2 separate regions of the Homo sapiens genome follow, and region 1 is reported to be linked to region 2. Evidence: microRNA targets listed by miRTarBase, many of them from high-throughput screens and not tested one by one. Region 2 holds a microRNA gene; the other region holds the end of a gene's coding sequence.

What was found. The annotated mature microRNA hsa-miR-3663-5p reads GCUGGUCUGCGUGGUGCUCGG and lies in region 2 at 2,252-2,272, opposite strand. An mRNA with a match to its seed (bases 2 to 7 or 8) in the 3' UTR can be bound and repressed. Matches are read on the target gene's strand: a 7mer-m8 pairs with bases 2 to 8, a 7mer-A1 pairs with bases 2 to 7 and ends in A, and an 8mer does both.
Region 1: miRTarBase lists NPHP1 as a target of hsa-miR-3663-5p. The part of its 3' UTR that is shown has no 7-base or 8-base seed match.

The regions. Positions count from the first base shown.
Region 1 is chr2:110,119,044-110,124,116 of GRCh38, forward strand. NPHP1 (nephrocystin 1) reads right to left here. Exons shown (of 20, transcript NM_001128178.3): 20 at 4,305-5,020. The coding sequence ends at 4,748. Among named protein-coding and RNA genes, the nearest start is that of MALL, 5.8 kb to the left of the region's middle.
Region 2 is chr10:117,165,483-117,170,555 of GRCh38, forward strand. It overlaps MIR3663 (microRNA 3663), which reads right to left and starts at 2,292; the gene lies at 2,196-2,292. It overlaps MIR3663HG (MIR3663 host gene), which reads right to left and starts at 3,573. Exons shown (of 3, transcript NR_121651.1): 1 at 3,378-3,573. RefSeq lists an enhancer at 111-665.

The sequences.
Region 1 (5,073 bases), not on the chromosome of region 2:
ATTGAGTCTGGCTTCTTGTGTCTCTGGAGTTGGGCAAGTACAGAACAGTTGCCCGGAAAGAGGAAGGACTCAATGGGATAATGTCTGGGTCATCCAGAGATTCCTACCTGGAGAAGAGCTCAGAAAGCATGGAGACCTTTTTATTCCCCAAAATGGCCTCTTCGAAAGGACACAGTTCTGCAAAGTTAATCTTTGCTGGCAAAGTCAGATACAAATGAGCAGGTTAAGGTCCAGTCTGTCTTACAGAGTATCAGAAAAGGGCTAAATGACAGGCACACTATCAAAGTCCCAAATGTGAGCTGTATTCCATTAATGAGTTCTGTTTTATATTGCTGCACACAGACCTGCACGCCTCATTCAGTATCAGTCATCACTGAGCAGAACATCCTCGACCTCCATTTTCCTGCCTATGAGACAGTATAACCTATAGACTTTCACTTGCCATTCACTTACTATTTTTCTGAGACAAGGTTTCCCTGTTGCCCAGGCTGGAGTGCAGTGGCATGATCACAGCTCACTGCAGGCTTAACCTCCTGGGCTCAAGTAATCCTCCAACTCAGCCTCCTGAGTAGCTGGAACTACAGACCTGCACCACCATACCCGGCTAATTTTTGTATAGATGGGGTCTCATCATGTTGCCTAGGCTAGTCTCGCATGCCAGGGCTCAAGCACCCTGCCTGCCTTGGCCTCCCAAAGGTGTGAGCAACTGTGCCTGGCCCATTCACTTATCTTTATACCCATCCCTCTTTATCCAAATTGACTTGGTTACTGCATTCAAATATCAGAATTCAGAGAGCAAGTTTGAGTTTTGAGGGATACAGTATTACCAAATCCACGTGTCCTTGAGTTTCAGAGAGTAAATGTGGGAGTTCAAATAGTGAGGGATTCATTTGAAAAGGTATTTGAATCTAACTGGTCCCCAACAACAGACAGTGGGGTTGGGAGAGGGAGAGTGAGGATAGGAAGGAATGCCTGTACACTTACCATTGACTTCATGCCTGCCACGGGGCCACTAACAGCCCCAACCATAGTACTGTTGGAATTAGTTTTTGTGTTTGGCTGATTACTGTCCACCTCATGCATTGTAAGGACAGAGATCTTGCCAGGACTGTTCTCACTGTATCTTCAAAGCTCAGTGCTGTGCCTGGAACATGGCAGGTGCTCAACACTTGTTGAGTAAATGATGAATGGATAATTGTAACACTTAGATGCAAAGTGCCCTAAGTAAGGTTCTTTCTCTGCCTCTTTGTTTTGAGGAAACAGATCACAGCAGCTAGGTGACAGCTGTCTTTGATCACCTCCACACCCCAAGAAAGCCTCCCAACTTAGAATGCTTCACGCAAGAGGAAGCTGAGGCAGTTCACAGCAAAGGATATCCTATAATGCTGTAAATTGACAAAGCCCTCAACTGGCAGAGGACACTGCTGGCTTCCTCTGTTAAACTGATAGTTTCCCAACTGCTACTGGGTTGGCAAGTCAAACTTGCTCCATTTGTACACAGGGTTATGTATGTCAACTGGTTTTATGTGAGTTGCTCTGGCCTTGCGCATTAGATCACAAACACTGAAGACAGAGACTATACCTGCTCTTTAATATCTGCCTCTGCCCCTAGACTTTCATTCCAAGCACCCAGGCAAGCGAGTTGCAACATTTTTCACCTCTGCAGACCTGATGGATATGACACTCAACCAATTAAGAGGTTGGGAGGGTGGGGAGGAGTGAGCCATGTAGTTCACAGTTCAGACTCCCCGCCCTGGCCGCCCTCCCATGGTTCGGGTGTGGTGAGTCCCCCTGGCCTTGGAGGTAGGCACCACACGTGTGGTCACTCGGCAAAGACCTGCTGTTCACCCTGCTGCTGCCCGCCCCCCACCACCATGACTCTTACAATTAATTCAGTGAGTTGCTAAAGTCACACTCCTTGAGACAGACCCACGAGGACTCATTTCCAGGATGTTTTTGGCTCCTTGACAACCTTTTCCGTTGTGGAAGCCAGTAAGTGGCATTTAAAGTCACAGAGATTTTGTTGTTTGAAAAAAAAAAAAAGATTCCACTGATTGAAGAGAAGGTGGAGTCTCTTAATAGCAGAAATGCCCACACCCCTGGGTCTCTCCCTTCCGTTATGTACCTCACTTTCTGGCCTAAGCTTCACTTAAGCTTTTTCTCTGGTGTCCCTATGATTTCCTAATGTGTCAGAAACTATGAAGTTGTCCATATTTGTCAGCTCATGACACATTCTCAAATGAACGTGGAAGACAGTCTTGGAAAATGCATTCTAATAAAAAGCCTTCTCTTCCTTCATGTTGTACATGCACTGAAAGAAATTCACTAGCATTTTCTTTCACTCAAAATGCCCCACCCCTGGCTTAACGCTAAGAATAAGCCAAATGCTTAAAAAAAATAAATAAAAAGATGGCCAAGCATGGTGGCTCTGAAATCCTAGCACTTTGGGAGACTGAGGCAGGAGAATTGCTTGAGTCCAAGAGTTCGAGACCACCCTGGGCAACATAGTGAGACCCTGTTTCTACAATAAAAAACACAAAAATTAGCCAAGCATGATGGCACGTGTGTGTGCTCTCAGCTACTCAGGAGGCTGAGGTAGGAGATCACCTAAGCCCGCGGAAGTTGAGGCTGTAGTGAACTGTGACTGCACCACTGCACTACAGCCTAGGTGACAGAAATAAATAAATAAATAAAAATAAATAAATAATAATAAATAATAAATGCCTCAAAAATAAATAAATAAAAATAAAAAGGTGGAGCTTAGAAATTATAAATCAATAATAAATAAATAAATGCCCAAAAAATAAATAAAAATAAAAAATAAAAAGGTGGAGCTTAGAAATTAAAAGTCATTTCTACAGAGAAATGACTTTCACAGTGAGGAGTGATATGGGCTCATGTTCTTTCAAAAACAGGACTGCAGGGGACTAAGAGTAAGAGGAGGCAACTCAGTAACAGAGTAGCAAAAAGTCTCTGTGCACACTTACCACCTCCATTTGAAAGGCAAAGCCCTCTCCCTGGGAGCAGGAGCTGGGGAGGGCCGCGGTGCTAGAGAAGTGGGGGCACCACTTTGTAAGTGTGCCCAGGCAGCTGATGGGCAAAAGGAAGGTGTTTGCCACACTCAGCCTTGTATTGTGTGGTTGAGGGCAGAAGGGCACGCACAGGGAGAGATCTCCTGAAATGAGTTCCTGGAGAATGAAATCTCTTTTCCAAGGCCCAGTTCTCACTTGTCACATTTGTGGCTGGGAACACTTTCTTTCTTTTTTTTTTTTTTTTTTTTTTTTTGAGATGGAGTTTCACTCTTGTTGCCTAGGCTGGAGTGCAATGGCACGATCTTGGCTCACTGCAACCTCCACCTCCCAGGTTCAAACAATTCTTCTACCTCAGCCTCCCAAGTAGCTGGGATTACAGGCACGCACTACCACGCCCAGCTAATTTTGTGTTTTTAGTACAGATAGTGTTGGCCAGGCTGGTCTCAAACTCCTGACCTCAGGTGATCCACCCACCTCGGCCTCCCAAAGTGTTGGGATTACAGGCGTGAGCCACCGCGCCTGGCCTGGAAACACCTTCATACCATGTTAATTTCTGAGACTGGGGCTCAAGTTAAATTTAGGTTAAGGGTTTAGGATAAGTTAGCTAAGATAGCCCAGAACTTTCATAATATGACAGATCTCTAAAAATAAATGGCTCTTTTAAGGCAGCATGCCATCAAAAAAAAGTACCTCTAATGGGATTCTAATTATTTAGGTTAAACTTTTCCTCATATTTTATTTTCACATGGAATCCTAAAAGGTTCGCCCCGATAAGGCAGAACATCTTAGGTTGTAGAAAATTATACATGGTATCTTTACTGGGAATATTAGCTGTGCCACTTATTAGCTGTGACCTTAGGCAAATTACTTCACTTATCTGGCCTGTTTCTTCGGCGGTAATAAAAAACAACAGTACCTATCTCCTACAGTAGGTGTGAGGATTAACTGGGCTAATGAGAAATGCTCAGACACACAGTAGGTGCTCAATTAACGCAGGCTGCTACTGTTTATCACTAAAAGGAAAGGCTTGGGACATTATTTTACCAGCAGTCACAGGTTTATCTGAGATGCAACAAGGCCTGAAAGGGTGAGTCGACTCCACTCTCCAGTGCCTGAAAGTTTCTTTTTGTGCTTTTGACAGAGCACTTATTTTCTTGATTTGAAAAGGCAAAAGCGACTCTGTTTTTGTACTTAATTAGGGGTAAATCACATTCAAGTATCAGACTGAATTAAGTGATACAACTTTCTCAAATGGATCACTTTAACTTCCTCTTCATTGAACAAGATAAATTTTATTAACACTCATAAATTTAAATATTTTGGATACTAGACCTTTATCAGTTAGATGATTTGCAAATATGTTTTCCCATTCTGTAGGTTGTTTTTTTCACTTTCTTGAATAATCATAAATTTAGTTTTTGACAAAATCTTGCTTTTATAGAAATCTATACCATTAACTTAAGTAGCTGTTTTTGAAAAAATAAATACTGTTTAAATTTAGATATAACAGTATTCCTTATAAAAATTTATTTTATGGTTTTAAAAAATATTTAAATTATTGTATAAACATTTCTTTAAAAATATGGTCTGTAGAAAGAAAAGAGTAAAACCTAAGTTGTAAAGTGACAGTGATTTTTGGTTCCATCATTTTATTCACGTAATCGTGGAGGATCCATCTGATTCCGTGGGAAGCTGAGGGCTAGAGGCTGCCACTGTCACACTGCATTCTTTCTCATTTCACCCAAGAAGTCATAGGTCTGCTCTGAAAGGTCAAAAGGTTCATGAACTCCGTCTGGTGACAGCAGAGCTTGGAGGGCGCCCTGGTTTTCTTGGTTTTGCTTAAGGAAGTCAGTGATAACTTTCCACCGTGCAGTCTCAGTCTCTTCTTCTGCCCACCTGAATGGGGGTAGGCGTGTGGAGTGGAGAAGTGGGAGCACGCAGTCATGGTAAACCAGGAGAAACGTGGACTTCAGGAACTCTTTGTCTCTCTGGGAAAACACCACCCCCACAAATAACATTGTTATTTTTAAAGTGTTAAATT
Region 2 (5,073 bases):
CTTCGGATGGATTTCTACGTAAACTCGGAAGGCGATCAAATGCAGGCGGCCAACCTCCAGCGCTTTTTTTTTTCCTCTCAAAGGCGGCGCCTGCATTTTTGGGGGCTCCAGCCCAGGCTGAGAAAGTCCCCTCAAACCTCTACTCTGAGGTTGCTCACACGGCCTGCAAAAACCCGACGGGGCACCCCGCCACCCCACCTTACGTTTCCCTAGGGCCAAGTCAGTGGTCAAAAACCAACCCGGTGGTAGCTGCCTTTACCAAGGAAAGACAGCCAGGACGCCCGCACCGACGGCAACGCGCGGACAGAGAGGACCGTGCCCTCTTTCGCATGTTACGGGGCGAGGGGGCTGTTGGCGTCAGGAGCGCCCTGGGAGGAACTTCGTAGCGGATTCGAGAGACAGAGGGAATTCAGCAAACTTGCTGCCCCGGGCTGCCGGCTGGAGCCCGGCAGATTCGCTGCGCAGCACTGCCCCCTGGTATCCAGCGCCGAAAGTGCCCCCCTCCGCAGCTGCAAGGCTCCTCCCTGGGCTGCGCGGGACAGATTTTTTCTCCTTTCCTGGCTACACGCCTAACAGAGAAGCTATCCCGAGGGACCTCAAGAAGTCCCCCCAAGCCGTACTCAAAAGCCTTTCTCCCTCCTCCTCAAGCGCTCACTTCCCCAAAGAGGACCCGGACCCCTGACTGCCTGAGCCAGGTCCCCAGCATGGTCCGCAACCCTTCTCGACTCCGGCATCCACCTCCAGGCTGACGTCTACCCGGGAGGGGGCTGGGGACCCAAGGAGACTTCGACTACAGGCCCAGGCGAACGGAAGGAAGAGGCTTGCGTTCAGAGAGACACGTTTGGAGCTGGGACTGTTCATTCTTTAAGGAACACCAGCTTCCAGGGCATCTTTCGTTGGCACCTTGGCTTTCCAGAGAAGAAAGGAAGTGGGTATCAGGGCCAGCCCCTCCTCGCACCCCAGGCTGGAGAGGTGCCGAGGTGCTTAGTCACTCAGTCCAAGGGCACCTGAGAGATGGGGGCAAACTTGGCAGGAGCTTGAGCACGGAGGCGTGATCCGCGGGGGGCGCAGGCAGGGCGGGGCCCAGAGCCCCCTTCCGCCAGCCCAGCCTGCCCCTTCCAACCCAACTTGTCTGGCACTGGCTTCTACGGGTGCCGAGAAGACTGCTGTCGTGGGCACAGGGTCCTCGACCCCAGGACGTGCGTGGCCTTTCCCACCCCAACCGGATGGTTTGTCCCAGGCTTTGAGACTGAGCTTGATAGAGAGGTAGGAAGGAAGCGGCGCCAGCTCCGGAGCCAGAGTGGGTTGGAGTCCCAGCTTGGCCACCCTCTAGCTGTGTGACCTTGAGTGAGTTACTTCGCCTCTCTGAGCACCAGTTTCTTTGTTTTTTTTTTTTTCAGGAATGGTGTGAGGATTGAGGTAATGTCCTTAGGATGCCCACATGTGTTCAGTCAAGGTCGGTCGTGATGGTTGCCGGCGTCCGCTGCAGGAAAGGCCCCCAGGAATCAGCTTGTAGGGTGGGCGCCAGCCGGTACTGCACAGGGGCATCGCGGCCTCCGGTTTTAGAAGGGGCAGAAACAGCGCAGTGTCCTCAGCCCTGAGGGCTGAGTGTTGGAGGTCCCGACGCTCCTGGGTTCTCTTCTGCCCGGGTGCAGACTACAGCAGGTGCGCAGGGCTTCGCACACCTCTGCTGTGGGAAGTGAGTCATCTTCGCTTATGATTGCATCTGGCCAGGCCAGCTACGAGAACACTGGGCCTCACAGCTGCCACGTATCCAGCCTTAACCTGTGCCAGGCACTGTGCTAAGAGCTATGCACCCACAATCCCACTTCTTCACAACAGCCTCGACCGAAGTAGATGTTTAAGTTTTTAAATTTCCATTTTACAGAGCAGGAAACAGACTCAGAGAGGTTAACTTCCCCCAAGATCACACAGCTGGTAAGTTGGAGAGCGGGGACTTGAACTGAATCTTCCTTGGAGGCCAAGCTCTGAACCACTAAGTTGGGTGGCATTAGAGAGCCAAGCTCTCGCCCTTCGGTTTCCATTCACGCTACCCTCTCTGAGCCGCAATTCTCTCTCCTGCGTTGGCACTGGCAGAAGTTGAGACACGCTCCCAGGAATCGCGGGCCGTGGCGCGTACTTCCACGCACCCCAGCTAGTTCCAGAGACTCAGCTTGTTCTGAGATCCTCTTGTCGAGCCCCCTTGGTCCCGGCGCCCGGCCTGTGTGGTGCTCAGATCAGACTTATCCACCCGAGCACCACGCAGACCAGCGCCTGGACCAAGGTCCCGGGAAGGAAGCCCTCCTCCCCTTCTCCTGTGGCTTAGCTCAGCGATCAGGGAGGAGCCAGTTAAGAAGTCACAGTCGAAGCCATGACTGCTGTGTCCCGGGGAGGCAGTGGAAGGCGAGGAGCACGGAGCGGGGATACCGCCGGACAACCCCTCCCCGCCGCCCCGTCGGCGTCCTCGCTGCGCAGGGGCTCCCTTGCTGCCCCAATCTAAAAGGAAGCCGTCGCGGCCCAGGGCACGGTAACTAAAAGGCCGTCGGGGAGGGAGACGGGAATGAGTGGGCTTGGACTTGAGGTTTCCGAGCCAGCTGCTCCCTAGAGCCGTTCCTGAGCTCGTCAGCCAGCACGTATTTAATGAATGGCCACTGGGTGCTAGGCCTTGCACGCAACCCTTTCGTCCTCCCCCGGGGCTGAGCCGAGGGTGACCCAACACTAGTCGGAACGAGCCTGGAGACATGGCGCCGGGGCTGCGCTCTGCAGGCCTGGCCTGGTCGCTCTCCACGCACCCCTCTCTCTGTAGCTGCCGCCCCGCCCGGCTCTGCCTGTGGGCGCCCCCTGGCGGCAGGAAGCCGAGCGCGCACCACGCCCTCGGGGCTCCATCCCCACTCACCCCGGCGCCTCTAGCCGCTCCACCCGCACCCCCAGTTCGCGCTGCGGCGGCCAGCCTCTTCCCCGACGGCCGACCGAATGTCCCTCAGAGCTTTCCGTGACCGGCCAGGGCGCGTGGCTGTCCGGAGCCCCTCCACGTTCCCCAGCAGCAGGCCCGGCTCTCTCTGATCAGCGAGCGCGGATGCCGGTCTCCTCCCTCCCTCTGCCGGGCTCCAGCCCGACGCCAGGCCGCTGGGGGCAAGCGCTGTGCTTTGGAAGAGGAGAAAAGCCCCAAATAAACAAAAACCCAAAGCCCATTCAAGTTCAGGGGTGGAGAACTGTTGGCATCTGAATTTTAAAAAGATCGCCGGGACTCCCAACCACCACCAAACACCCTCTTGTCCACCCCCCCCCGCCCCCGACACCATCCCACCCCACACACCCCACGCCCGCGTCCCGTGAACCGAACCGCCAATGCGCCGCAACCTTCTCGGCAGTCACACCTGTGTCCCCGATGCCATCTGCCCACGTCTGTGTGTGAAGCAAACCCCGCTGGCAGACGGGATGGAGAGAGATGGCTCCTCCAAACCAGAATTAGGAGGAAAACCCCGCTGAGGGCGTTTCAAAAACCCAACAGGCGAGCGGGGAAACCTGCATTGTCAGACCTGCTGGGCCCTGAGTTCTAGCCCCATGCACCGCGCCGAGCTAATTCTCCCGGCGACTCTCTGAGGGGTTATTACCACGTAATAATTGATGAGGACACTAAGGGCTAAGAGGAGTCAATTAACTTGTCCCTAGTTACAGAGTTGGAAGTCAGGGATGGATCTTAACTGGTGGGGCTGTTCCGAGGGCCTGTGAGAGACTGGGTTTCAGCCCAGAGCCCAACACAGCGCCGGTAGAGAAAGTATCGGGTACATTTTTGCCTGCTAATCCGGCGGTAGGAAGTCAATTACATCTTTGATGACTCAGATTTTTGAAACAGCCCCATACAACTTCCAATTACGGGGGCAAATATAATTGTGAAAGTCTATGGGATTTGGAGATGAAGGAGTAGGCCATCAAAACATAACCCAGAACTTAACTTGTTTTGGAAAAAAACATTTTATGGAAAATTTCCAACATATAGGAAAGAAAAGAGAATATTATAGTGAACTCCCATGCACCTGTCCCCAACCTCCAAATAACGAAGGCAAATCTATTTTATGGTCAATCTATTTCCTCCCCTCCTTCCCACGGACTCTGCCTCCCCAGCTGTCAAAACCTACACACACACTGCTTCCCCTATTCACACAGATTATTTGGAAGTAAAACCTGGACCTTGCCACACTTAATCTGCAAGCATTTCAGCATGTACTGTCAAGAGATGACCACATTACCAAAACTACAATAGCATCAACACAACCACAATACCAAGATATACCCACAAACTTCACATTCCTAAACACCCTGGAGTATCCAGCTGGCTGAAGCTTTATTTTAACCACAATTCCTGGCTAGAGCTTGGTTTTCACTGAGTTTCAGCTCTAGGGCCAGAATGACCTGGGTTTGGATCTTGATTTTTTTTTTTCTTTTCACTTATTAGCTGAATGACTCGGGGGCATGACTTACCTTCTCTCTGAGTGTCAGTTTAGTGCAATCTCACATGGTTGTTACAAAGATAAAAAAACAAAACAATGCATGTAAAGAGTTTGGCATAAGCCAGGGAATAGTATCTGTTATTTCTCCTAAAGCTGGACTTCGGTGAGATTTTAGCTAACGAAGGCTTGAAAATTAGGTTTGAGTTGGGGCATCAGAAGTTTTCACGTTGCATGGAGGGTAAGACTAGAGCCAGGGATGCACCACCACACCCAGTGATCATTCATGAGTTCACCCCTCCCAGGATTAACAACTGAACTCTCAGTGATGTCTTATCTTATAAGGCTCTAGTCTTATCCTCCATGCAATGTGAAACCTTTTCAGGTTCTCCAAGGATCCTCCTAGGTCCGACAGTCATCGTGGGCTTTTCTTGGGGGCAGTGCTGGTCTTTCTCCCCTGTATTCCTGCCTCTAGCATGCGGCTGGGCACACGGGGTCAGTGCTGTCTGCTGAAAGAATGGTTGATGACATCATCCCATCACGTGGCCTTTGCATAGCCAATTCCTTCTGCCTGAGACATTTATGCCTTTTCCCTTAGCTTAATTAACCCTCTCTGAATGGGTCA